Linked DNA regions of Homo sapiens: all the other regions are linked to region 2. Evidence: fine-mapped expression QTL. A gene starts in region 2. Each other region holds a variant in brackets. All regions are shown on one strand. Distances are between the middles of the regions.

The links. PIP is the estimated chance that this variant, and not a neighbour inherited with it, causes the effect.
Region 1: its variant is the best candidate, but not a certain one, in a credible set for the expression of ZNF607 in fibroblasts (GTEx, PIP 0.71).
Region 3: its variant is the best candidate, but not a certain one, in a credible set for the expression of ZNF607 in spinal cord (GTEx, PIP 0.85).

What each region holds. Positions count from the first base shown.
Region 1 is chr19:37,788,567-37,795,799 of GRCh38, reverse strand. LOC105372394 (a long non-coding RNA gene) reads left to right here. Exons shown (of 4, transcript NR_187848.1): 3 at 1,745-1,824; 4 at 2,073-4,610. It also overlaps the pseudogene LOC728533. Among named protein-coding and RNA genes, the nearest start is that of ZNF573, 13 kb to the right of the region's middle. The variant A/G (reference allele first, on the strand shown) is at 3,713.
Region 2 is chr19:37,716,103-37,723,335 of GRCh38, reverse strand. ZNF607 (zinc finger protein 607) reads left to right here and starts at 3,575. Exons shown (of 5, transcript NM_032689.5): 1 at 3,575-4,067. RefSeq lists silencers at 3,814-3,923, 3,984-4,073.
Region 3 is chr19:38,268,652-38,275,884 of GRCh38, reverse strand. All of the region lies in intron 1 of SPINT2 (serine peptidase inhibitor, Kunitz type 2), which reads right to left. Among named protein-coding and RNA genes, the nearest start is that of SPINT2, 7.7 kb to the right of the region's middle. The variant T/C (reference allele first, on the strand shown) is at 2,828.

The DNA.
Region 1 (7,233 bases), 72 kb before region 2:
ACAAATAACAGAACTAGAGAAAAAAGAACTGAGGCCTGGTGACGGACGTCTGTAGTCCCAGCTACTTGGGAGGCTGAGGCGGGAGGAACGCTTGAGCCCGGGAGTTTGAAGCTGCAGTGAGCCATAACCACTCCACTGCATTCTAACCTGGGTGACAGAGTGAGACCCTGTCTTTAAAAAAAAGTTTTTTAAATTAAAAATAAGAAAGGAGTGGTGAACATCAATTATTTAGACTGGAATCTCTTGTTTTCAGGAAAAACAGGTTTTTTTTGAGATTTATCTGCTCCCTTAAAGTTTCAGTTTGATAATGTGGCATTTAGCATGAGTGACTTCATTTTGGTTTGGTGTGGTCTGTTGGAGCCTAGTGCAGAAGCTCAGTCCAAAGCAATACCATACCATAATTTTGGTTTAACAGCAACAATTGAGGTAGATTCCATTTTCGAACTAACAGTTGGAGTCTTTGTGTCTCTATTAATTCTCTTCTGCAATGACAAAACTACACACAAATGTTCATACATGAAAATTAGAAACACATACACCAAAATATGTAAAGTGATTTTCTCTGGGCAGGGGGGATTTGGGGTTATTCTTTCTTCTTCATAACTTCCTTAGGTAATGAAATTTTTGCAATGAGCCTGCCTTAATTCCATCATTACAAATAGAACATCAATACATTCCAAAGCATTAAACTTTTTAGAAGAGGGTACATTTTTGTCATGAAAAGAAACCTAAGTACTAGGACTAGAATTAAAAAGTATCAACGTGTCATGTAACATGTGTCCTCTTGAATAGCCTTTAGCTGTGCCACTTCTACATAATTAGAAACATTTCACTATTAAGATTCTTCCCTTAATGAACAGGGAAATGGTCTTTGCGCATTAAATGAGAAAAGATACAGAAAACAGACCACATGATTTGGGTACACATTAGATGTTCAATAAATGTGGCCTCTCCCCTTCTATTCTTCTCTGAAAAACCAATTGAATGGTCATATTAGATACAATCCTTGCAAAAGGTTTTGGAAACTTCCATTTTTAAAAAATGGGATGCATATACAGTTTTTGAGAACTGTGATCTACAACTGTGAATACTGTTTAAGGTTAGATCACAGTCATTTTTCCGTTAATGACAAATTCTTATTATTTTTTGTTTCCCTGATATCTGGTATGCAGCTAATAACAAATTCTTTATAAACATAAATTTTATTATCAGTATAATGTCCAATCCCATGGATGTTGTATGATTTTCTTAACCATTCTCATAATCTTGATCATTAGTTTTCTGCAAAACCATTCAAAGGTATAACACTCTGATTCCAGGTCTAAAGCTCAAGTCTAAATAATTTGGAAGATGGAACCCTGGAAAAATGCAAATTAACAAACATGTATATAAAGTTTCAGGGGGATTGTGGTGCCCTGTATGCCCGTAAAAACAGACAATGGACCCAATGACTAAGAATTCCTATTTTGGGGCACTTAAATTTCCGGCTCACTTCCTTCATTTGCACGAACACATCACAACTGAGTTCATATTCCTATTGCTTTTGATCTACAGAAATCCAAAACGGAACGATCCAAAAACTCCTCGAAATAGTGTTTCTGTTTCCCCCTCCAAGGCTACAGGTGCATAATTTCATACACATAACCAGAAGGAAGTATGGTAGGTGAAATCTCTAGTCATCCTTCACTGCAGGTTCTTAGAGTCAGAATTCAAGAAGGCCGTGATTCTTTTTTTTTTTTTCCAGGATCTTTAACTTTATTAGCAGCTACTGAGCTACAGAATACAAACCAACTGAAAACATTAAAGAAAGGCTTCCTGAAACAGGTATGTACAGGTATACTACACAGAAGCAAAAGCTGTATAATCCAATCCCAAAGCCACCCCTGTGGGGAAGGATGACCTTAGCTATGGGCCAAAGGAGTATAGAAGTTATGACATAAGAGTCCCATCCATCCAGGAAAGCAGTGGACAACTACAGCCACATTTGCACCAAAAATTTATCTGAGATTAGTTTTAAAGTTTCCATGAATCAAAGTTTTCAAATGAAAACAGGTACCCCTTTTTTCCTGTAGGCTTTCCAGCTCACTACCCAAAAGACTTGAGTACTTCTATTAAGGCAGCTGGAAGCCCACCCTAGACTTCAATGGCAATTTGTCCTTTCTCTGCCAGTAAGGCAATCCAACACAATATGCTACAGGAAAAACAGAATTTCCATGGTGCTGCCCTCTGGTACAAGGGAAACAGCACTCAGAGCAAAAGGCCACAGAGGACTCCCTGAGAATCCAGTACAACTAAGCGAGGCCTTAAACTGTCGAGACAAACTTTGCAACTGGATCCCGGTGGGACAGTGCCCTGCGGCGAGGAGTAGTGTATATGCCAATGAGAGGGCCCAGCTTCCAGGAACCGTTACAATGGCGTCCTGAGTCATTTTCTCTCTCCCACTTGCATTCGAGTGCGAAAACACACACCGTGGCCTTGATTCTCACTCACCACAATCCCCCTGTACAGAGGGGTTTGTTTCTAAGTCTGGAACCTCAACACGAGGCTGGGATGCTTCACGACGTGCTCTCTCCCACTGTCCAGCCATCTTTGGTGGTCTCCCCATAGTGCTTTCCCATCCTCTTATGCTCCTGTGGAGGGACCATGGGACGGGCCAGGAGGAAACCTGGGATCACTCTGACAGAAAAGGGACAAGCACAGCTGCCAGGAGCCAGTTGCTCCAGCCTCAGTCTCCGGTTGTTAGTCTCAGGATCAACAGAGAACTGGAAAGCAGCAGAATCTGGAGGAGCAGGCAGAGAGCCCAGAGGAGGAGTGTTGTGCTCAGTGACGGTTAACAGATGAAAAGGAATTTCATGGAGATTCTTTGTTACAAGGAGAAATTGCTCAGTCTCAACTCCCAGAATATGAAAGTTGCCTGGTTTAAGAGACCTATATTTTCTTTTTCAGCTCTTCAAACCTCTGGGAAAGATCATCAAAGTCAATGTCTTCAGATGCTGAGGTGCTGGCACCAGCAAATGCAGTTGGTAGTGTGTCTGGCACAGATGGCAACTCTGGTAGGACAAAGTTGTCATAGTTATCCGCAGGTCAGGAAGGAAGCTTTGCAGAGGCTTCTGGCTTGGGTCCAGGACCAACAATCTGTGCAGAAGAGATATTCTTATCAGCATTAATGTCATCTACAGATTCATATGATGGGGGAGTTGCTGGTATCTGAGATGGATAAATATTGGGAAAGGCCTGGTAAGTCCCCATTGGCAGTCCATTGAAATCTGATGGTCCCTTTGGCAGTGGATATGAGAAAGGAGTATTTGCAGATAGCATGGGCATAGGCATGGGCATTGGCACCATTCCATCAGGTCCACCAACTGGTGCTGTGAACCCACCACCCCCTCCTCTTCCAGGGCCTCCTTTCTTCACATCATCTGTGAATCCAACATCAATAAGATCTGTCTCTACCCCAGAAGGAGCTTCTGCCATGACCACAGAGTCAGGTTCATAGGGTACATTGTAATTCTTCGCAATTTCAATCAGGTATCTCTCCACCAGGATTTTGGATGGGGCTTCCACACTCAGATTGTGCATTAGCCTGTCATTCACAGTTCCAATCTGGTTGGTCCTACATAGCTTGCCATATTACTTGCTATACTTGGCACAGAGCTGATCAGCAACTATTTTCAACTCAGCCACTTCTGACTGGAGTCGAGGAGCAGCCCAG[A/G]TCAATGTAGACACAGATTCAGCCAGACCAGAATCTAGTTCCTTCATAGACTGGATAAGGCCAAACCGAGCCAGCAGCAGATCACAGTACAGCTCCAGGATCTCCATGGCCTCCACGAAGTAGTCTTCCCGGATAATGTGCTCCACACGGATCCGAGCTCGTTCATCTTTCCCAGCAGCCAGATAGTCAGCAATCTCCTTCCTTGCTTTCTGGGCCAGTTCTGTTTTTTTTTTTTTTCCTCCAATAGTTCAAGGCGATTTATGACTAATCTCAAATTCACTCTTAAGTGCTCAGCTTTAAATCCAGAGCCCAGCATGCTGTGCTGTTCCTCCTAACCGAATCCTGCCATGAACACAGCAGACACCGACTTCAGAATCAGGGTTCACCATCCACGTGATTCTTAAACACGTAAATGAAACTCCAAGAACCGGGAGATGGGGGCGGAGTGTACAACCCTTCCAGGAAGGAATCCTACACAAACCCTGCGTGACCAAACTTTACTCAGGCTCTTACACCTTCCCCTGGGCCCATCTGTACACTTCATTATAAAATCCAACAATAACAAAGGCCCCTTTTAAGTCAGTTTAGCAAGAACCCTCTGCCCCCCATCTTCATCCTCCACTATCCCCCAGGCGATGATGTCTTATCATCCAGGTCTCTCTCTTCAGAAAGAATCCCAACAGGTGCGTTTAGCCAGAATCCTACTTATCCCAGACATTTCCTCTTAGTATTTTGTCATCCAGTGATCCCTAACCTGCTCCTTGACTATAAATTCCTACTCGTTCATGCTGAATTTGGAGTTGAACCCAATCTCTTGTACCCATTGCAAAATCTCACTGCTGTGCTTCCAATACCTATCACGATGATCCTGAATAAAGTCTTCCTTTGCATGCTTTAACGAGTGTTAAAGACTGAATATTTTTTCTTTAAAAGAGTCTATCACACCGTCTTAAGGGAATTCCTGCTCTAAGCTTCCCATCCTATCCGTTTCTTCTCACTGGAAAACTTCATCTAAGGCTCAGTATCTGATTTTGCGCTTAGATCATTTCTCTGTGGCAGTCATACGAGGCTGAGAGGAGACAGGGAAACTGAGACCCTGACCCACGGGTCAGTGACACCACAGAGTTATAGCAAAGCACGCTTTCAAAGGACACTCACGCTATGTCCCGGTCACACAACACATTCACGCACCCTTCTCAGTCTCCACGTCACAAAGGAGACGTTCTCCACCTGTCTCCCTAGAGATGAGCCCCTTCCTTCGCAGCTCCAGCACCCCAAGGCCTGAGTAGGTGGGAGACAAGTCCGGCCCGCGCCCGAGGCCTCCGCGCTCTGAGTGCCTCCTGCAGCTCCACTCTCACCGCCACCCAGGGTCCCGCGCGGGCTGCGGGCTGGGGCTGCAGAAGCTCCGGCAGCGACCCGCGCCGCCTTCTTCCTCAGGTGGGACCAGGTCACGGGCAGCGCAGAGGTCCAGGAGACGGAGCCAGAGGTACAAGATTTCTCCGTCGCCCGTGGAATATGTAGTCCAAGACGGAACAGTCAGGACCGCAGGCAACCCTGAGAAGTGGAGTCCAGAGTCCTAAAAACCTACAGGAAATACGGATGTGACCACGAGGACCGCGCGCCCCGCCCACCGCGCGAGCCTGGGACACCTCTGGGAGTGGCCACCTGGCCTAGGAGTACGCAAGCGCAGATCAGACAAATGCTGGGGCCCCCGACCTGAGGCTAAGGGTGGAGTCGCTGCGTTCTCAGCGCCAGTAGGAGGCGAGTCTGGGTGGAACCTGACTCGGGTAAAAGAAAAGGGTTAGGTAAATGGACTCAGGTCCTATAGGAGTGACTTAAGTCCCACCACATTCTTCAATACATTATGTTCTTCACCTTTGGACACGAATACATATGATTAAAAATTTTATTTAAAAACATCCAAAGAAATAAATACTTTCATTATTTTTGTTTTGGAATAGGCTTGTTTGCTTGTTTGTTTGTTTTAGGGACGGAGTCTCACTCTGTTCCACAGGCTGGAGTGCAATGGCGCGATCTCGGCTCACTGCAACCTCTGCCTCCCGAGTTCAAGTGATTCTCGTGCTTCAGCCTTCCAAGTAGCCGGGATTACAGGCATCCGCCACCACACCTGGCTAATTTTTGTATTTTTAGTAGAGATGGGGTTTCACCATGTTGGCCAGGCTGGTCTCGAACTCCTGACCTCAGGTGATCCGCCCACCTCGGCCTCCGAAAGTGCTGGGATTACAGGCGTGAGCCACCGTGCCCGGCTGGCCTGGAATAGGATTTTTTTTTTTTTTATGGAGTCTCGCTTTGTTGCCCAGGCTGGAGTGCAGTGGCGCGATCTCAGCTCACTGCAACCTCTGCCTCCCGGGTTCTGCCTCCCGGGTTCACGCCATTCTTCTGCCTCAGCCTCCCGAGTAGCTGGGATTACAGGCGCCCGCCACCACGCCTGGCTAATTTTTTTTTTTTTTCTGGTATTTTTAGTAGAGACAGGGTTTCATCATGTTAGGCAGGATGGTCTCGATCTCCTGACCTCATGATCCGCCCACCTCGGCCTCCCAAAGTGCTAGGATTACAGGCGTGAGCCACCGCACCCGGCCATCTTCTTCTTCTTCTTCTTCTTTTTTTTTTTTTTTTTTTTTTTTGACACGGAGTCTCCCTCTGTCGCCAGGCTAGGGTGCAGTGGCGTGATCTCGGCTCACTGCAACCTGCGACTCCCTGGTTCAAGCCATTCTCCAGCCTCAGCCTCCCGAGTAGCTGGGACTACAGGCGCGCGCCACCACGCCCAGCTAATTTTTGTATTTTTAGTAGAGACGGGGTTTCACCATGTTGACCACGATAGTCTTGATCTCTTGACCTCATCATCCCCCGGCCTCAGCCTCCCAAAATGCAGGTATTGTAGGCGTGAGCCACAGCCCCCGGCCTGGAATAGGCTTCCTAAACGTAACAAAGGGAAAAAATATTTTTTAAAATTTAGAACCTTGATATGGTAATTATTTATCTTGGTAGATATCTATAAACATTCCATATATCTGAATGGTAAAAAAAAAAAACAGTTTAAACAAAACAAAACGAAAAAAACCTTTTTACTTCCCAGGCTGAAGTGCAGTGGTGCGATCTCAGCTCATGCAACCTCCGCCTCCTGGGCTCAAGGGATTCTCCTGCCTCAGCCTCCCGAGTAGCTGGGACTACAGGCATGCGCCACCGTGCCCGGCTTTTTTTTTTTTTTTTTTTTTTTTGAGACAGAGTTGCGCTCTTGCTTCCCAGGCTGGAGTGCAATGGCGCAATCTCAGTTTACCGCAACCTCTGCCTCCGGGGTTCAAGCTATTCTCCTGCCTCTGCCTCCCAAGTAGCTGGGATTACAGGCATGCGCCACCACGCCTGGATAATTTTTTTTTTTTTTTTTTTTTTTTTTTTGAGACCGAGTCTCGCTCTGTAGCCCAGGCTGGAGTGCAGTGGCGCAATCTCCGCTAACTGCAAGCTCCGCCTCCCAGGTTCAGGCCATTCTCTTGCCTCAGCCT
Region 2 (7,233 bases):
GCTGCTGTGAGCTGTGATTGCACCACTGCACTCCTGCCTGGGCAACGGAGCAAGATCCTGTCTTTAAAAAACAATAAGATAGTCTGGGCGCAGTGGCCCACACCTGTAATCTCAACACTTTGGGAAGCCAAGGTTGGTGGATCACTTGAAGTCAGGAGTTCAAGACCAGCCTGATCAACATGGTGAAACCCTGTCTCTACTAAAAATACAAAATTAGCCGGGCCTGGTGGCGCGTGCCTGTAATCCCAGCTACTTGGGAGACTGAGGCAGGAGAATTGCTTGAATCTGGGAGGCGGAGGTTGCAGTAAGCTGAGATCGTGCCACTGCACTCCAGCCTGGGTGACAAAGCAAGACTGTATCTCAAAAAATTTTAAGAATAATAATAATAACATTATTACTATCTTTCAGAGAAACTAAATATGAGGAAAAAAATGGTTTTACTTCCATTAACTTTAATTCTGACTCTTCATTTCTTGTTTAGATACAAATTTCTGATTCTGTCCTATTCTTTCTCAAGAATTTTCTTTAACATTTCTTATAAAGAAGATCTGCTAACAACAAATGCTCTCAGTTTTTACTTGTTGAAAACTCTGTATTTCTTTTTTATTTCTTTTGGTAACAACTTTGTATATAATTCACATTCCATCCAATTCACTCATTTAAAGTGTAAAATCCAGTAGTTTTTAATGTAGTCACAAAGTTGTGAAACCTTCAACACAGTTTTATAACATTTTCATCACGCCAGCATGAAAGCCTTTAGCCACCATCCCAATTCCTTCTGCCACCGTTCAATTTAGGAAACAATTTACTTTCAGTCTCTATAAATTAGCCCACATTGGAAATTTTATATGAGAAGAAATTTCACATAGAAGGAATCATAAATATGTGGTCTTTTGTACCAGCTTCATTCACTTAGCATAGTGTTCAAGGTTGATCTATGTTGTAGCTTGTATCAGATCTTCATTTCCTTATATTACCAAATAATAGTCCATTGTGTAGATATGCCACATTTTACTTATCTACTTATAAAATGAAGAACAATTGGGTTTTCTTTCCAGTTTTGGCTATCATGAATCATGCTGCTATAAATATCTGTGTACAAGCTTTGTGAGAACATATGGTTTTGTCTTGAGAATATACCTAGGACTAAAATTGCTACATCGTATGGTAACTCTACATTCTTCTGAGGAACTGCCAGACTGTTTATACAGTAGTTCTACCATTTTCCAGTGACACCATCAATGTATATAGGGTTCTATTTATCCAAATCCTATCCAAAATTTGTTATTGTATATTTATTTGATTTTAGTCATCCTAAGTAGTATATCTCATTGGGGTTTTGGGGTTTTGATTTACATAGTCTTTTTCTTTGTTTCCCAGGCTGGTTTCGAACTCCTAGGCTCAAGCAATCCTCCTGCCTCGACCTCCCAAAGTGCTGAGATTACAGGCATGAGCCACTGCTCCTGGCTGATTTGCATATTCTTAATGATTAATATAGAACATGTTTTCAAGTATTTAGTAGCCATGTGTATACTTTTTTTTTTTTTTTGAGAAATGCTTATTCAGTTACTTTGCCCATTTTTGTTGGGCTTTTTATTATTGAGTTGCAAGACTTCTTTATATATTCTAGATACAAATCCCTTATTGGATACATAATTTACAAACAATTTTTCTCACTCTTTGGGTAGCTTCTCACATTCTTGGTGGGTTTTGAAGCACAATGTTTTACAATTTATGTCCAATTTCCTTTTTTGATGTTGTTGCTTGTGATTCTGATGTCACGGTTAAGAAACAATTGCTGACTATAAAGTCCAGAAGATTTATGCCTACATTTCCTTCTAAATGTTCTACTGTTTTAAGTCTTACACCTAGGTGTTTGATCCATTTTGAGTTGATTTTGTATATGGTGAGAGGCAGGGAACTCAATTCATTCCTTTCTATGTGCATCTCTAATTCCAGTCTTTTCAACAAAGACTACTCTTCCCTTCCTTAAAATGCCTTGGTATCCTTGTTGAAAATAGTATGTGGAGCCGGGCGCAGTAGCTCATGCCTATAATCCCAGCACTTTGGGAGGCCAAGGCGGGCAGATCATCTGAGGTTGGGAGTTCGAGACCAGCCTGACCAACATGGTAAAACCCTGTCTCTACTAAAAATACAAAATTAGCTGGGCATGGTGATGCATGCCTGTAATTCCAGCTACTCAGGAGGCTGAGGCAGGAAAATCGCTTGAACCTGGGAGGTGGAGGTTGCAGTGAGCCAAGATCGTGCCATTGCACTCCAGCCTGGGCAACTAGAGCAAAACTCCGTCTCAAAAAGAGAAAAAAGAAAAAGAAAATAATATGTGGAGTCAATTTAATCCATTGATCTATGTGTGGTATTTCTGAGAGATTATTCAGGAGATTCAGGAGCAACAAATCCAAGAACTAATTAAGAGAAGAAAAAGTGATCAATAAGTTCTTAAATTGTAACTTTAATAGTTTTTTTTCCTTGACTATTTGTATTTTTGAATGGTGATTTTTTAGTTTTGTTCCTTTTCCTCTTAGGGTATAGACAAATATTTTTTATTTTTAAATTAATTTTACTTATTTATTTTTTGAGACAAGGTCTTGCTCTGTTGCTCAGGCCAGAGTGCGGTGACACCATCATACCTCACTGAAGCCTGAACTTCCGGGCTCAACTGATCCTCCTACCTTTGTCTTTGGAATAGCTGGGCCCACAGGCGTGTGCCACCACACCAGGCTAACTTTCATTTTTGGTAGAGTTTGGGAGGAGGAGAGGGGTGTCTCACTATGTTTCTTAGGCTGGTTTTGAACTTCTGGCCTCAACTGATCCTCCTGCCTTGGCCTCCGAAAATGCTGGGATTAAAGGCGTGAGCCACCGTGCCCAGCCTGTATTCATCAATATTTTATTAAGCCAAAGAAACAGGAAATTCGGACTATTAAATATTTGTCCGTTTTAGCTGTTGTAAATATTTCCCCCAAATTTACTTACCTAAAAATTTTTCTTATTCGTTTTTTACCATTTGGAAATTTTGGATGCTTCTAAATAACTATGAAGATTTACAAAGTATTACATGAAGGATCAAAAAAATTTTTTAAATTTCTTATTTTATCTTCAAGAAGCCTATTCCAGAACAAAAATAATAAAACTATTTAGCAGTTATTTCTTCAGATGATTTTTTAGTCAAATTTTTAGTCAAATATATTCGTGTCCAAAGATGAAGAACATAATGTCATGTATTGAAGAATGTGATGGAACTTCAAACCCTCATATAGGACGTGAGTCCATTTACTTAGCGCTTGACGAGACAAGCTGGGCCTGTCGGGTGGTATTAAAAGTCCCAGTCCCATGTGTTACCAAGGAGGCCGGCTCTACCTCAGGAGCCATGAGGGTTTCGGCGCCCCACCCTGAGGAGCTCACACCCATCCAGCAGGTGATCCCTTCCGAGGCTACCTGGATCAGTTTCTACTCAGACTCGCCTCCTACTGGCCCTAAGAACGCACTAACTCCACCCTAAGCCTCAGGCCAGGGGCCCAGTAGTGGCCGATCTGCGCATGCGCACTCGAGGCAAGGCGGCCACTCCCAGAAGTCTCCGGGGCTCGAGCGGTGGGTGGGAGGCGCGGTCCAAGTGGTCGCTGCCGTATTTCTCGTAGGTTTTTAGGATTCTGGACTCCATTTCTCACCGGTACCTGCGGTCCTGACTGTTCTGGCTTGGACTACATATTACAAAGGCAACGGAGAAAACTTGGACCCCTGGCTCCGGTTCCGGGACCTTTTGGTTCCACCTGAAGAAGGCGGCGCAGGTCACTGCGGGAGCCTCTGCAGCCCCAGCCCGCCGCCCGCGTGGTACCCTGCGTGGCGGTGAGAGTGGGGCTGCAGGAGGCGCTCAGAGCGCGGAGGCCCCCAGGCGGGCCGGGCGAGTCTCCCGCCTCCTCAGGCCCTAGGGTGCTGGAGCTGCGGAGGAGGGGCCCGTCTCTAGGAGACAGGCGGGGAGCGTGAGAGACCGCGCAGCGGCGACAGGACCGGCTTGCCTGTGTGACGTGGGTGCAGTTGCGGGACTGTGAGGGGTGCGTAGTCGACCTTGTGTGACCTGTACATGCCGTGTGTGTCCTTTGTAAAGCGTGCTTCGCTGGGCTCTGTGGGGTCTATTGACCCTTGGCTCCAGGTTCCCTGCTGCTTCCTGTGCCTTCCTCAGCCTAGTACGACTACAACAGAGAAATGGTCCCAATGGGAAATCAGATACTGAGTCTTAGATGAAGATTTCCAGTGAGAAGAAACAGATAGGATGAGAAGCTTAGAAGAGTAATTGCCCTTAAGAAAGGTATGATAGATTCTGTTAAATAAAAAAGTATTCAGTGACACTTGTTAAAGCATGCAAAGAACCCTTTATTCAGGACCATGGTGGTAGGTATTGGGATCCCGGCTGTGAGATTTTGCAGTGGGTAACAGACATTGGGCTCAACTCCGAATTCAGCATGAACAAGTGGGAATTTATAGCCAAGAAGGTTAGGGATCACTGGATGAGAAATTACTAAGAGGAAATGTCTGGGTTAAGGAAGATTCTGACTAAACGCACCTAACAGGATTATTTCTGGAGAGAGAGACCTGGGGGACGGTGGAGGATGAAGATACGGAGGCGAAAGGGTCTTGCTAAACTGACTTAGAATAGTTCTTTGCTATAGCCAGATTTTACAGTGAAGTGTACAGATGGGCCTAGCTGAAGGTGTAGTAGCCTGACTAAAATTTGGTCTGGCAGGGTTTGTCAGTTTCGAGTGTAGGATTCCCTCCTGAAAAGGGTTGTTACTCCGCCCCCACCTCCCGGTTCTTGGAGTTTCATTTACATGTTTAACAAACACGGCCTTGAATTCTGACCCCAAGAACCTGCAGTGAAGGATGATTGCAGGTTCCATCCAACATACTTCCTTCTGGTCGTGTGTATGAAATTACGCGCCTGCAGCCTTGGAGGGGGGAAACATAAGCGCTAAGTATTATGAGGCAATTTTGGATATTCCGTTTTGGATTTCTGTAGATCAAAAGCAACAAGAATATGAACTTAGCCGTGATGTGAAGGAAGTGAGCCAGAATTTAAGTTTTCCAAAATAGGAATTCTCGGTCATTGGTGTACTGTCTGTAGACCAATGCCCTTATGGGCATAAGGGACATCACAAACCCCCTGAAATTCTATAAAGAATTCCTGTACATGTTTGTTAATTTGCATTTTTCTAGGATGTCCATAATCCAAATTATTTAGACTCAGGTTTTAGATCTGGAATCAAAGAGTTTTATACCTTTGAATGGTTTTGCAGAAAACTAATGAACGAGATTATGGGAATGGTTAAGAAAATTATACAGCGTCCAAGGGATTGGATATTATACAAATAATAAGATTTATGTTTGTAAAGAATCTGTCACAGGATAAATAGCTGTGATCTAATGTTTAACACTATTTAGAGTTACAGTGGTGGATCACAGTTCTCAAACTATATATGCAACTCTTTTTCTTTCTTTTTTTTTTTTTTTTTTTTTTTTGAGACTGAGTTCCGCTCTTGTTGCCCAGGCTGGAGTGCAATGGTGCGATCTCTGCTCACTGCAACCTCCGCCTCCCGGGTTCAAGCGATTCTCCTGCCTCAGCCACCTGAGTAGCTGAGATTACAAGCATGGGCCACCATGCCTGGCTATTTTTTTTTTTTTTTTGTATTTTTAGTAGAGACGGGGTTTCTCCATGTGGGTCAGGCTGGTCTTGAACTCCCAACCTCAGGTGATCCACCCACCTTGGCCTCCCAAAGTGTTGGGATTACAGGCGTGAGCCACCACGCCCAGCCGCAGCTCATTTTTTAAAAATGGAATTTTGGGCCTGGCACAGTGGCTTCCGCCTGTAATCCCAGCACTTTGGGAGGCCGAGGCGGGCAGATCATGAGGTCAGGAGATTGAGACCATCCTGGCTAACATGGTGAAACCCCGTCTCTACTAAAAATACAAAAAATTAGCCGGGCGTGGTGGTGGGCGCCTGTAGTCCCAGCTAGTCGGGAGACTGAGGCAGGAGAATGGTGTGAACCTGGGAGGCGGACCTTGCAGTGAGCCGAGATCGAGCCACTGCACGCCAGCCTGGGCGACAGCGCGAGACTCCGTCTCAAAAAAATAAAATTTAAAATTAAAATTAAACAAAGGGAATTTTGCAAAAACTTTTGCAAGGATTGTATCCAAAATGATTATTTAATTGGTTTTTCAGAGAGGAATGAAAGGGTTGTGGCTACATTTACTGAGCATATAATGTGTGCCCCAAATTATTGGACCTATTTTGTGTACCTGTTCCCATTAGATGTGCAGAAGCCATTTCCCTGTCCACTAAGGAAAGAATCTTTATAGTGAATTGTTTCTAGTTATGTAGAAGAAACACAGCTAAAGGCTGTTCAAGAAGACAAAGAGTTACATGTTTTAGTCACGCTGATTTTTCATTCTAGGCCTAATATTTAGATTTCTTTTAATGACACATGTACCCTCTCCCCATAAGGATACTTTTAGAAATAGTTTATTACTACTTTGAAATATCTTGAAGTTATATTTATGATGATGGAATTAAGGCAGTTTCGTCACAAAAATTTCACTCCCTAAGATAGTTTCAAAGAAGAAATTTAGAATAACCCAAACCTCCCTGCCCAGAGAGAATCACTTTACAAATTTGGGTGTATATGTTTTCAGTTTTCATGTGTGAGCACTTGTGTGTGGTTTTGTCTTTACAGAAGAGAATTAATGAAATAGACAGACTCCTACTTTTAGTTAGAAAAAGGAATCTAACCCAACCATGGATATAAAACCAGTATGATGAGACACCATTACTTTGGACTGAGCTTCTGCACTAGGCTCCAACAGACCAGACTAAACCAAAATGAAGTCACTCATGCTAAAAGCCACATTACAAAACTGAAACTTTAAGGGAGCAGGTAGAGTTCCAAACAGATCAGTTTTTCCTGAAAACAGGAGACTCCAGTCTACCTGAGTCAGCATAATAAGGAAATGACCTCCGCTTAACCTTCCAGAAAAAAGTAAACTGAAGTAGCCTGATAGTCACCAATCAATTTTTTTTTCTATAGTTCTCTTATTTGTTTCCACCTTACAAAATCCACTGTTTCTCCATTGCTCAGTAGGAGCTCTTACGCTATTTTGTACAATGGAGGCTACCCCTTTCATGAATCACAAAGCCCATTAGATCTGTAAGTCAATGTGTTGCAACTA
Region 3 (7,233 bases), 550 kb before region 2:
GTGGTGGTGCATGCCTGTAATCCCAGCTATTCTGGAGGCTGAGGCAGGAGAATCGTTTGAACCCAGGAGGCACAGGTTGCAGTGAGCTGATCCATTGCACTCCAGCCTGGGCAACAAGAGTGAAACTTCATCTCTCAAAAAAAAAAAAAAATTTTTTTGTCAAGCTGGGCATGGTGGCTCATACCTATAATCCCAGCACTTTGGGAGGCCGAGGCAGGAGGATCATTTGAGGTCACGAGTTCAAGACCAGCCTGGGCAACATAGTGAGACCCTGTCTCTACAAAAAATAAAAAAATTTTTTTGGCCAGATACAGTGGCTCACACCTGTGGTCAGGATTTCAAGACCACCCTGGCTATCATGGCGAAACCCCATCTCTACTAAAAATATAAAACTTAGCCCGGCACAGTGGCGCGCGCCTGTAGTCCCAGCTACTCGGGAGGCTGAGGCGGGACAATCACTTGAACTCAGGAGGCGGAGGTTGCAGTGAGCTGAGATCGCACCACTGCACTCTAGCCTGGGCGACAGAGCAAGACCCTGTGTCAAAAAAATAAGGAAAGAAAAACTCTATTGGCTATAAATGCACAGAGTAACAAAACAAAACAAAACAAACAAACAGAAAGAATGTTTATTTAGCATACTGTAAGTTAAAACATTGGAAACATTTAGGATTAAAGTGTTAATTTCTGTGCAAAAGAATTTCTAAGGGGAGTTTGAACCGTGCTTGTGGTCTTCTCACCATATAACTTACGATACAGAGCAAGCATCATTTCTACACCTTTTCCAGCAATTGCCAAACACTTTTCTAGATCTGGATCAGCTTTCAACGTTTTATCCTTTGCTCTTTCAATGTCACAAAATTGCTCGCAGAGCTGCTTCACAGAAGAGGCTCTGCCAGTGTTGCTTCCTCTGGGCCACCATCCAGAAAGTCACAACTGCCGCCCTCATTTCCGTGGACAAGAAGCCTTCACAAGCTCCCTGGCTGCAGATCCAGAGTCTCTCCAGTGGCAGAGGGAAGTGCAACACCTCCCGTAAGCTGGTCTACCTCTCCATTTTATGTTTTTTTTTTTTTTTAAGACAGTCTCACTCTGTCGTCCAGGCTGGAATGCAATAGTGCGATCTAGGCTCACTGCAACCTCTGCCTCCCGGGTTCAAGTCATCTCCTGCCTCAGCCTCCTGAGTAGCTAGGACTCCAGGAGTGTACTACCACACCTGGCTACTTTGTGTATTTTCAGTAGATAGGGTTTTGCTGTGCTGGCCAGGCTGGCCTCAAACTCCTAACCTCAAGTGATCTGCCTACCTCGGCCTCCCAAAGTGCTGGGATTACAGGCGTGAGCCACCTTAGCGAAAAACACTGCAGAACACCTTTCCTAAAAACAACTAACATCACTAAAAACAAGTCTCCTCTTTTCATTAAAAACACTTGGAATTCTAAGGATAGTAGCCAAGGAGAAGTTATTTGCTATAAAAATCCCCAGACATGCCACTCCTTAGTATCAAAAAGCAAAGAAAGCTCTGAAGAGTCATTTAATCCAAGAGTTTCAAAGAACTCCATCTCAAAAAAAAAGAAAGAAAAAACATTGTTGTGAAGATTAAAGGAGTTTTTAATCCATTATAATTGCTTAAAATAGTATTTAGCACACAGCTTTCTTTTTTTTTTTGAGACAGGGACTTGCCCTGTCACCCAGGCTGGAGTACAGTGGTACAATCTTGGCTCACAGTAGCCTTGACCTGTGCTCAGTGACCCACCCACCTCAGCCTCCAAGTAGCTGGGACTATAGGCGTGTGCCACCATACCCGGTTAATTTTTGCATTTTTTGTAGAAACGAGGTTTCACCATGTTGCCCAGACTAGTATTGAAGTCCTGGGCTCAAATGATCCACCCGCCTCGGCCTCCTGAAGTGCTGGGATTACAGGCGTGAGCCACCGCACCTGGCCTAGCACAAAACTTTTAACAAATAGTAGATATTGTATCTTTACGATTGTATTTTTTATGAAGACAGGACTAATATAGGGACAGTCAGAATAAAGAGAATGACACATTTCACTACAGAGTCCAACCAAGCATGCTGACGGAGAGGATAAGGAGGAAGAGGATATACAGGGAAGGCCAAAAGTACAACCTCAAGCCAAACCAATGATGTCTTATCTTCACCTGGAGGAAGACAATGGCAAACCACCACACGGGTCAAAGTCCTGCATGGCTACAAGATCAGGATATGCTGGGCTGGGAGGCAGAAAGCCAGAGGGAGGGACTGGTGGAAAAAACAAATACCAAAACAAATGAAGCAACACAAACCCTCCATGCTTTCCACACCTACTTGCACTTGCACTTCAAGCATCTTTTCACCAGGGAATGAATGAGAGCATCTTAAAAAGAGGTACTGAGGCCGGGCACAGTGGCTCATGCCTGTAAGCCCAGCACTCTGGGAGGCCGAGGCAGATCACCTGAAGTCAGGAGTTCAAGAAAACAGGTACTGAATGACAGGAGGTACTGAAGCCTATTTCAATTCTACCAAGCCAGATTCCAAAGGTGACATTTACTGTGTAATCAGCCTTATTTTAAGATGATCTATAAATCTACCTACTTTGGTTAGCTGGCTAGGTTCTATATATTTGAGTGTTTCTGTTTCCAGTACAGAAAGCTACCAACTACCCATCTCCTCTAGGCTTGGGTGTCTGGAAGTTTTCATTATTGAGACAATTCAGAACCTTTCAAAAAAAAACCTCAGGTATTTATGAGGAAAGAACATTTACAATTACAAATCCTACTTAAGTTATGAGGCTCATAAAATCTTGGTGTTTCAGATATAAAATCTTGGTATTTTC[T/C]ATATAAAATATTTAGATATAAAAGTTTACATTTCAGGCCGGGCACGGTGGCTCACGCCTGTAACCCCAGCACTCTGGGAGGCTGAGGCAGGTGGATCACCTGAGGTCAGGAGTTCAACACCAGCCTGGCCAACATGGTGAAACCCCGTCTCTACTAAAAATACAAAAAAATGAGCCGGGCGTGGTGGTGCATGCTTGTAATCCCAGTTACTCAGGAGGCTGAGGCAGGAGAATCGCTTGAACCCAGAAGGTGGAGGTTGCAGTGAGCCGAGATCGCACCACTGCACTCCAGAGTCTGGGCGACAGAGACTCCATATCAAAAAATAAAAAATTTACATTTCATAACCTATCAGCACAATGCAACTCATCACTACTCATGCCTACCATCACTCCATATTCCACTCTGAAACAAGACTATTAAGTCTACCCTCGCCTCAATCCATAACAAGAACCCGAGCAGTCCATCTGAATAGCTGGGAAGGAAACAATAGTTTCAAATCTTCTAAGAAACTGTCTGCTGTTAATTCGCATTCAGCCATTCTTTACCTTGTGCAAATCATGGACCATTTTCAGAACTGAGGAAAGCTCTTGGACCCTCTCTCTGGAATGGTGTTTCTCAACCTTTTTTCATTACTACCTTCCCCCTAAGACTTTTTGGAAATGTTTTTCCTAATCGCCCCACAAAATTTTAACACCACAGACATACTATATATCTATTCATGTAGAGCGGCCCTTCAAAAGGTCACAAACTATTATAGTATCTTTTTGTTCCCCCACCCCTTTAAGAACATGCCATACACTCTAAATGACAGACCCTGGCATACACATGGACAAACTATCACATATAAAATTGTTTTGAGATGGGGTCTCGCTCTGTCGCCCAGGCTGGAGTGCAATGGTGCGATCTCGGCTCACTGCAACCTCCACTTCCTGGGCTCAAGCAATTCTCCCACCTCAGCCTCCCACATAGCTGGGACTACAGGCTGACTAGTTTTTTGTATTTTTTGTTTCACCATGTTGAAACTCCTCAGTCAAGCAATCCACCTGCCTCAGCCCCCCAAAGTGCTGGGATTACAAGCGTGAGCCATTGTGCCCAGCAGTATCACATAAAAGTGAAGGACTTCAGATTAAGGGACTTCTGAGGCCATGGACCCTGGGCCCAGTCAGGAATCACCCTGAGCTCCATCTCCAACACGTGTGAGTAAAACAACATGTGAATTCTTGCCCTCTTTTTTTTCTGAGATGGAGTCTCACTCTGTCTCCCAGGCTGGACTGCAGTGGCGTGATCTCGGCTCACTGCAACCTCCACCCTCCGAGTTCAAGCGATTCTCCTGCCTCAGCCTCCAGGCGCCTGCCACTGCACCCGGCTAATTTTTTTTTGTATTTTTAGTAGAGATGGGGTTTCAACATCTTGGCCAGGCTGGTCTTGAACTCCTGATCTCGTGATCCACCCACCTCGGCCTCCCAAAGTGCTGGGATTACAGGCATGAGCCACTGTACCCGGCCAAACATGTGGTGGTCTCTTGTAAGTGGCTCCTCTCACTTAGCATAACATTTTTTTTTTTTTTGAGAGAGTCTTGCTCTGTTGCCCAGGCTGGAGTGCAGTGGCATGATCTCAGCTCACTGCAAGCTCCACTTCCTGGGTTCACGCCATTCTCCTGCCTTAGCCTCCCAGATAGCTGGGACTATAGGCGCCCGCCACCACGCGAGGCTAATTTTTTTGTATTTTTAGTAGAAACGGGTTTTCACCGTGTTAGCCAGGATGGTCTCGATCTCCTGATCTCGTGACCCGCCTGCCTCGGCCTCCCAAAGTGCTGGGGTTACAGGCATGAGCCACCGCGCCCGGCCTCGCCCTCATTTCTAAAATGGCTTCTAATCATAAAAAGCATATTTCAAATAAACTTCAAAATAAGTAAACTCTAGCTCCTACTTCACCTGCCAAGGAAAATAAAACAACAAAAAAAGGTAAATAAACTCCAAAGTTCCTGGGCCTCAGCATCAACATCAGCACTTCTTTACAGGGAGTTTTCAAAAAGATGTTGCCAGAAAAAAACCATGAAATGACACTTGTGAGGAGGATCTTGCAGGACATCGGAATCCACACTCTAATGTCCACATTAGTCATGGCCGGTGGGCCAAGGCCTCCTGGGGCTAATGGAGTCATTTCAGTGTGACTCCTGCTGGGCTCTCTCCCGCCTCACATGAGCCACAGGCTTATCACCCCTTATTCAGCCTCCCCTGTAGCCTCCAGACATGGCAAACAGAAGCTCTGCATGCATTCTGCAAATGGCTGGGGATGGGTAAAATGAGAAACAGGGTGGGGAGCAGGGTGAAAGAGGAGAAGTGTGATTTCTCCATTGCAGGCTGAGCTCTCAAATACTGACTGGGCAAAGCAATGTTTCCAGTGGAAAGGGGCCAGTCTCCCGCGGTGACCTGAAGGCAAGGCCCTCAACCTTCTTTAGGAACTGCAACCATTTGAACCTCAGAAGCCCCCATTTTCAGTGCTAAGCACACCAACCCTGACACTCATCACCAGACATACATTCATCTGTTCATTTATTGTACTGTCTTCCTCTCATTATGACACGTCTGCCACGGATGGGGGAGGGGGTCTATTTTGTTCAGTGCTCTAATTTGAGTGAGTCAGTGCCTGGCAATTGGTGGGTGCTCAATAAACATTTGCTGACTATATCAGTGAATAAGATTTCGAACTACCCTGGAACCAAACTGCCTTGCCTGCAAGTAGGACAAGCACTCCTTCTATGGAGGATAAGAATAATGTGAGAAGCTGTTTTAGAGAATTCCCAGCTGATCGCCAACACCAGCTTTACTTTAGCTCTTCTGTCATCTTATCTCTGACCACCAGGGTCACGACTATCCATGGGGGTGAGGAGGAAAGTAAAGAAAGGGTGGCAACTAATAACACGTCTGTGGAGTCTGCTGGAAAGCTTACAGCAGTTAAGGTTCTACAGACACTATAATTAACCTGAGAGGTCCATGCATTTCGAAAATCCCTTGGAAGTGCAGGAGAGGGCTGGGCCACGTGGCTCGAGCCTGTAATCCCAGCACTTTGAGAGGCTGAGGTGGGCAGATCACCTGAGGTCGGGAGTTCGAGACCAGCCTGGCCCACATGTTGAAATCCCATCTCAGGCCGGGCGCGGTGGCTCACGCCTGTAATCCCAGCACTTTGGGAGGCCGAGGCGGGCAGATCACAAGGTCAGGAGATCAAGACCATCCTGGCTAACACGGTGAAACCCCGTCTCTACTAAAAATACAAAAAATTAGCCGGGCGTGGCGGCAGGTGCCTGTAGTCCCAGTACTCGGGAGGCTGAGGCAGGAGAATGGTGTGAACCCAGGAGGCGGAGCTTGCAGTGAGCCGAGAACGCGCCACTGCACTCCGGCCTGGGCGACAGAGCGAGACACTCCGTCTCAAAAAAAAAAAAAAAAAAAGAAAAGAAATCCCATCTCAACTAAAAATACAAAAATTAGCTGGGTGTGGTGGTGCACACCTGTAACCCCAGCTACTCAGGCGGATGAGGCAGGAGAATCACTTGAACCCAGGAGGCAGAGGCTGCAATGAGCCAAGATGGCGCCACTGCACTCCAGTCTGAGTGACACAGCAAGACTCTGTCTCAAAAAAAAAAAAAAAAAAAAAAAGGTGCAGGAGAGGTTCTCAAATAAGTGTTGCCCTGCTTGCCTCCAGTGGAAATTCCCAAGAAGAATCAACAAAGGACCTTGAACCATCCTGGCTAACACGGTGGTGAGACCCTGTCTCTACTAAAAATACAAAAAATTAGCCGGGCGTGGTGGCGGGCGCCTGTAGTCCCAGCTACTCAGGAGGCTGAAGCAGGAGAATGATGTGAACCCGGGAGGTGGAGATTGCAGTGAGCTGAGATCGCGCTACTGCACTCCAGACTGGGCGATGAGAGAGACTCCGTCTCAAAAAAAAACCCAAAAAAACAAAAACAAACAAAAACAAAAACAAAAGACCTTAAGCCAAGTAACCATTAACACAAGTTCTGATGCCCAGGGCCAGGCACAAAGTTATTGGCAGCAAGAACTACACCTAACTGGCCACTCCTAAAGGACCTTTCAAGTTTCTATTCTGCTGAGGAAATATATGATCTGGCCTGGTGTTGAGCAACATTACACATTTCAGGACCCTCCAAATACCAGGATTTACCACCTGGGTGGGGAAAAGGAAAAGAAAAAAATCCTGCATATCTGCAGCTACCTGATATAAGGATTTCCCCAACAGCCAGCCGTAACACACACACACACACACACACACGCGCGCGCGCATGCTCTCTCTCTGTCTCACACTGTAATGTGCAATTTATAAAGAACTGTTACGTGTTACCATTTACTAAATGGAGCATATGTTTAAGGTAGGGGTCACAAGCCAA